Linked DNA regions of Homo sapiens. The protein of the gene in region 1 purifies or fractionates together with the protein of each later gene. This does not show direct contact. Each region holds a gene or a part of one and is shown on either strand. Other genes may lie near its edges.

Region 1 (3,830 bases):
GTGCAGACAACAGTTCAAAGAGAGTTTCTATTCCATGGGATTTTGAAAATCTGACAGGAACAGAAGCCCCAAACTGTCCTCATTCCTCCCATTTAAATTTTTCTCCTTTCTTCTGTCCTTATTACTTCTTCCAATCCCATCAGTTCCAATTTCCCCAACTTCCATCCCCTGCTCTCTCTCTCTTTTCTTTTTAGGCAGAGTCTCACTCTGTTACCCAGGCTGGAGTATAGTGGCGTGATCTCAGCTCACTGCAACCTCTGCCTCCTGGGTTCAAGTGATTCTCATGCCTTAGCCTCTCAAGTAGCTGAAATTATACACGCACTACTACGCCTTGCTAATTCTTGTATTTTTAGTAAAGATGGGGTTTCACCATGTTGGCCAGGCTATTCTCGAACTCCTCACCTCAAGTGATCTGCTCACCTCGGCCTCCCAAGGTGTGGGGATTACAGGCATGAGCCACCGTGCCTAGCCTCTCTTTTCTTACACAGACTTCCTGCTCAAATGTGTGAGCCTTGTGCCTAGGTAGGAAATATAATCAGTGTATAGAGTTTGTAGAGAGAAGATTTATTCATCAATGGTAGAAAATTGTAAAATGCAGGAGCAGAAGCTTCTTTTTCTTCTACTCACTAACCCAATACTGCTCTGTGCTCACTCTTTTGGAAAGCAGTGGATTGGCACAGTGGTAAACCTTACCTAAGTTCCAATCAGGTGTTTCGAAGGATTTGAAGGATGTTGTTGACACAGGATAACACTTGTTGTGGTTAGTGATTTGAAAAAGAGTTGAAATATAGGAGTACCTCAAAGAGGTGAGATCTGTCATTCATTTCACTCAGTGATCCCAACAGACCTGCTGTGGATAGGATGGCTCTACTCTTTGTAAACGTTGAACTTTTGGAATACACATACAGACTTGCATTTATCAGTACCTCATAAAGTATTTTATTACAGAGGGACTTTCTAAATATCTCTTGAATGAATAAATGAAATGAAATTCAGAAGTTAGGAACATGCCTCACCTGCTCTCCATACAGCAAACATCTTAATTCCAAAATGACCTTGCCATTCATTAATTTACCTTAATTAAAAAATATATACACTTATGTACAAACATGTTTAAATAAGCTTTTAATTTTAGAACAGTTTTAGACTTACAAAATTTATTAGGAAGATAATACAGAGAATTACAGTACACCTCATGTCCAGTTACCCCATTTTACATTAGTATGATACGTTTTTAAATAATGAATGAACCAATATTGATACATTATTATTAACTGAAGTCCATACTTTATTCAGATTTACTCAGTTTTTCCTAATGGCCTTTTGCTGTTCCAGGATCCCATCCAGGATACTGCATTACATTTAATAGTCATATCTCCTTAGGCTCTTTTTGGCTATGAAATTTCTTAGACTTTCCTTGTTTTTGATGCCCTTGATAGTTTTGGGGCCAGGTATGCTGTAGAATATCCCTCAGTTGGGATTTATCTTATTTTTTTCTCATGGTTAAATTGGGGTTATGACTTTTGGGGAGGAATATTATAAGGTGCCATTCTCCTCACCTCCCATCAAGGGTACATACTATCCACATTATACCCACTGTTTTTTTTTTTTTTTGGAAACTTAAAACTCATTTTATGTTATTATAAGTAAGAAATTAGCATTCAATATATGCCACAATATATCTTTGTTGAAGTGTAAGTTTGTTCCACTTTTCTATTTTTCATTTTCCAACTTTTATTTTAGGTTCGGGGGTACATATGAAAGTTTGTTACAAGGATAAATTGTATGGGGCTGGTATAACTGCTAGCCATATGCAGAAGATTGACACTGGATCCCTTCCTTTTGCCATATATGAAAATCAACTCAACATGCGTTAAAAAGTTAAATGTAAAATCTAAAACTATAAAAACCCTAGATAATATCACTATTGATGTTAACCTTGATGTCCTGGCTTGAAATAGCGTTTGTCAGTTTTTGCCACACTGTAAAGTTGCTCCTTTTTTCTCCATTGCCATACTATACTCTTTGGAACAAAGTCACTATGCACAGCCCACTATTAAGGACAAAGTCTTCTATTCTAGGCCTTCTGTCTTTCCATATGAACTTTAGAATCCATGTGTTAGCTTGGATTCTAAAATAGCTTGCTGGGATGTTGATTGAGATTGCATTGTATCTATAGGTCAAGTTGGAAAGAACTGACATCTTAACAATATTTAATCTTCTAGTCTATGAATCAGAATATCTCTCCATTTATTTAAATCTTAGACTTTCTTCATCTGTGTTTTCTAATTCATGCTTATAAATCCTATACATATTTTGTTATGTTTATACCTACGTATGTAATTTCAGGGGTATTACTATAGATGGAGTTTTTAAAATTTCAAATTCCAGTTGTTCATTCTAGTATATAAAAAAGCAAATGACTGGGTGCGATGGCTCATGCCTGTAATCCCAGCACTTTGGGAGGCCGAGGTGGGTGGATCACGAGGTCAGGAGATCGAGACCAGCCTGGCCAACATAGTGAAACCCCATCTCTACTAAAAATACAAAAAATTAGCTGGGCAGGGTGGCATGCGCCTGTAGTCCCAGTTACTCCGGAGGCTGAGGCAGGAGAATTGCTTGCACCCGGGAGGCAGGGGTTGTGGTGAGCCGAGATTGTGCCACTGCACTCTAGCCTGGGCAATAGAGCGAGACTCTGTCTCAAAAAAAAAAAAAAAAGCAATTAACATTTGTATGTTAACCATGTATCCTGCAACCCTGCTGTACTCACTTGTTGACTCTAGGAGTTTTTTTCTTTTTTTCTTACTTTTTTTTTTTAATCCTTTGGGATTTTCTACATAGACGGTCAGGTCATCTGCAAATAAAAAGTTATCTTTATTCCTTCCCAATCCGAATATCCTTTACTTTTCTTTCTTCTATTATTGTACTAGCTAAGACTTCTAGTGCAATGTTCCATAGGAGTGGTGAGAGAGGACATCCTTACCTTGTTCCCAGTCTTAGGGGAAAAGTGTCTAATTTCTCACTGTTAAGTATGATGTTGGTTATAGGTATTTTGTAGATGTTCTTTATCAAATTGAGGAAGTTTCTCTCCATTCCTAGTTTGCTGAGAGTTTTCATCATGAATGGGTGTTGTACAAACAACATTTTAACAAAAATAAAAGAAAAAGAAAGCAATCCTACTGCCTTAATAAGTCGACTGGTTTTCTGTATTTTCACATTTTTTTCTATTTCAAATAAATGAAGTATACTCAAAAGAGACATGTCTAACAGGGAGCGATTATACAAGTATAATTATATACCCATAGATAGACATAATATTACATATTTGGTGATTAGAATGTAAATTTAATTTTACAGTTCCCTTTGTACTTCATTATATCATACGCCATTTTTAATGTTCCTGCACAGACTTCAAAATCATAGTTTTTGGTGTCTCCAAATTCAATTTCCATAATTCATTAACTAATTCATTTCAAAGCATTTATTGCACATCCAGTACACACCAGGTCCTGATAATAGAGATTTAAAGAAGGATATGGCTACTCTCGGGTTTCTCACAGTCATGGAAACAAATGCCTGATAATATAGTGTGTTTAAGTTATCTTTATAGAAATATGAACAGAGAGTTTTGGGAGCTTGGAGGATGAATAGCGGAATCTAATTCTCTGGAGAAATTAGAAAAGTCTTGTTGAAGGAAGTGACATTTGATGTAACTCTTGAAGGACAGGAAATTTTCCAGATGAAGAAATAGTAATATTTACGAAGGTTTAAAGTTGTGCAAGAGCCTAGAGTGTTTCAGGAACAATTTAATAACTTAGAAATTTGAGATT
Region 2 (3,101 bases), on another chromosome or scaffold:
TCCTGACCTCATGATCCACCCGCCTCGGCCTCCCAAAGTGCCGGGATTACAGGCATGAGCCACCATGTCTGGCCAATTCTTTCATTTATTAACTCAGCATTTTTTGGCATGCCTAAACATATGCTAGGTGCTGAGATGCAGACTGAGGAAGAGATAGTCTCTGTCCTCAAGGGGCTCACTGTCTAGTGTGGGAAGGCAGGATGTGCGTGCATCACCATAGTCTGTTGTGGGAACTGCTTTCCTAAGAATGTGTAAGAAGGGCCCTGGGAACAACTTGGGAGAGGCAAATAAAAGCAGGTAGTTTTTACATCAGGATTGGCAAACTCAAAAGTCTTTAGGCCTAGGATACTGAAAATGAGTGAGGTGAAGGACACATGTCATACTGTGGGAGCCCAGGGGACCTTGGCAAACAGGAGAGCACAGCCTTGTCAAAAGAGGAAGCTCCGCACAGCTCCAGCCATGGAACTAGGGCCAATGTTGCCAAAGCCAACTTCTCAGGGAAACAGGGTTTCCTGCAAGTGTGTGCAATGTCCAGACTTGTTAGTGTTGGCTGTCTGTAAATGTTTAACGATTGTTTTTAAACACATAATGGCCAAGCCAGACAGGTTTAGGGGCACCCCTGGACCACCCTTTGATTTAGATACAAATTAGACTTTCTTTTTCTTTCTTTTTCTTTTTCTTTCTTTCTTTCTTTCTTTCTTTCTTTCTTTCTTTCTTTCTTTCTTTCTTTCTTTCTTTCCTTTCTTTCTTTCTTTCTTCCTTTCTTTCTTTCTTCCTTTCTTTCTTTCTTCTTTCTTTCTTTTTTCTTTCTTTTTCTTCTCTCTCTCTCTCCCCTTCCTTCCTTCCTTCCTTCCTTCCTTCCTTTCGAGACAAGATCTTCAAGCTGGAGTGCAGTGATGCAATCACAGCTCACTATAATCTCCAACTCCTGGACTGAAGGGATCCTCTTGCCCCAGCTCTCAAGTAGCTAGGACTACAGGAATGTGCCACCATGCCTGGCTAATTTTTTTTTCTTTTAAAAAATTATTACTTTTGAGACAGAGTCTTGCTCTGTTACTCAGGCTGGAGTGCAGTGGTATTCTTAGCTCATTGTAACTTCTGCCTCCCAGCTCAATCCATTCTCCCTCCTCGGCCTCCTGAGTAGCTGGGCGCCACCATCCCTGGTTAATTTTTGTATTTTTTGTAGAAACAAGGTTTTACCATGTTGGCCAGGCCGGTCTCAGACCCTAGGCTCAAGCAATCTGCCTGCCTCAGCTTTCCAAATTGCTGGGATTATAGGCGTGAGCCACCACGCCCAGCTGTCCAGCTAATTTTTGAAAAATATTTTGTAAAGACAGGAGGTCTTGTTGCCCAGGCTGGTCTTGAACTCCTGGCCTCAAGTGATCCTCTTGCCTCAGCTTGCCAAAGCATTGGGATTACAGGTGGGAACCATCACACCTGGCCATGAACTTTCTATTATAATCTGTTCTACCACCATTTCTTTGGTAATTTTGCATCCTGATTTTATAGAGAGCATTTCTTTCATAAGAGTATGCCAAGACTCGAGATGTTAATTGACTCGACATTTCAGCCATTCAGAGGCTCTGAGAGAATCGAGATGATTACTTTTCTTTTCCTTTTTTTTTTTTTTTTGAGACAGAGTCTCGTTCTGTCGCCCAGACTGGAGTGCAGTGGCGTGATCTCAGCTCACTGCAACTTCTGCCTCCCGGCTTCAAGTGATTCTCTTGCCTCAGCCCCCCGAGTAGCTGGGATTACAGGCTTGTGCCACCATGCCTAGCTAATTTTTGTATTTTTAGTAGAGACGGGGTTTCATTACTTTGGGCTAGGCTCCTGAACTCCTGACCTCAGGCAATCCGCCTTCCTTGGCCTCCCAATGTGTTGGATTACAGGTGTTAGCCACGGTGCCCAGCTGAGATGATTACTTTTCTTGATACCCCCAGAGAAACTTACTGCTTAGACCTGAAGATCAAGAACTGCCCCCATTGGAGACAAACTGTGGGATAATTTATGTTAATTCTAAATAAATGTCTCTTAGTATCTCCTTTGGTTACTTTTCCAGGTGAGACAGGGGAAAAGGTGGAAACAGACATGGAGAATGAGAAAGTGAGTGAAGGGGCTGAAACCAAAGAAGAAGAAACAGGAGAAGTGGTGGACCTTTCAGCAGCCACATAGATAGAAGAGTGAACCGACACAGTGTGTTATCATAGAGGAGACAAAAATGGTAGTGAAGCTTGTGGTTATGTATCTTATCTTTCTACATTTACATGTTTTCTGTAAGGAGTGTGGTTATAGAGAGACTGTTGGAACCATGAGAAGGATGTTTCTGTGTTCTTGATTATATTGTTCTGCAAAACTGCTAAGCCATGAACAGTTTTCTTAGCTACTTAGAATGGTTATACATTTAAAAGTATAAAAACCAAAGCCAATAAAAATGATGTGATTATTTAAGAGTGTGAGGGTGACTTTCTTCATTGTGGCCATGGGGCCATTCAGTATAGAAAATGAGACCCTAAAAAGAAAGTGTAAACCTTTAGGTACAAGTGGCTAGAGAAAGGAGTTAGCAAATTTTAGGGAACTCACAATAATAAAGTCACACAATTATAATCATGATGGAATGAGAATGAACAACAGCAAAAATAATAGGATGAACTATACCAAATATTTCTGTCTTGTTATAGAATTCAGAGCTGATAAGAACCTTAGGAAGTATGTCATCTACACATTTGCTCTCCTTTAAGCTTGTCAACTACCACAGATCCTTATTTATCATGGAATATTAAATATGTTAACAGAATCCTTTGCAAAGGATTGCAACTCTGGTGCTATCACAAGGTTAGACATTTTTCATGATGAAAGGCTACACATTTTCCATGTGCCATTTCGAATCAGCTGTTGATTTTATACTCACATGAGGTTTTTCAATTGGTGTTATCCTTTTGAATAACATTAAAAGTATTTTTAATTAATTCACTTTTAAATGTATTTTGGAGACAATAAACAGCAAGGATTAAAACCTAGATTGTTGCTTATGTAGAGTCTATTCCTGGGCTCTACTCTTTTTTTCTTTTTTTTTTGGACATGGAGTCTTGCTCCGTCACCTA

The links.
Region 2: the proteins of FMO5 (region 1) and ERICH5 purify together in Homo sapiens (affinity purification with mass spectrometry; one large-scale study listed by BioGRID and IntAct). This does not show direct contact.

Annotation. Positions count from the first base shown.
Region 1 is NC_000001.11:147,218,729-147,222,558, reverse strand, and holds part of FMO5 (flavin-containing monooxygenase 5), read left to right. Parts: intron 1-3,830. UniProt on the Homo sapiens protein: Acts as a Baeyer-Villiger monooxygenase on a broad range of substrates. Catalyzes the insertion of an oxygen atom into a carbon-carbon bond adjacent to a carbonyl, which converts ketones to esters.
Region 2 is NC_000008.11:98,091,162-98,094,262, forward strand, and holds the end of ERICH5 (glutamate-rich protein 5), read left to right. Parts: intron 1-2,059; coding exon 2,060-2,172; 3' UTR 2,173-2,448; downstream 2,449-3,101.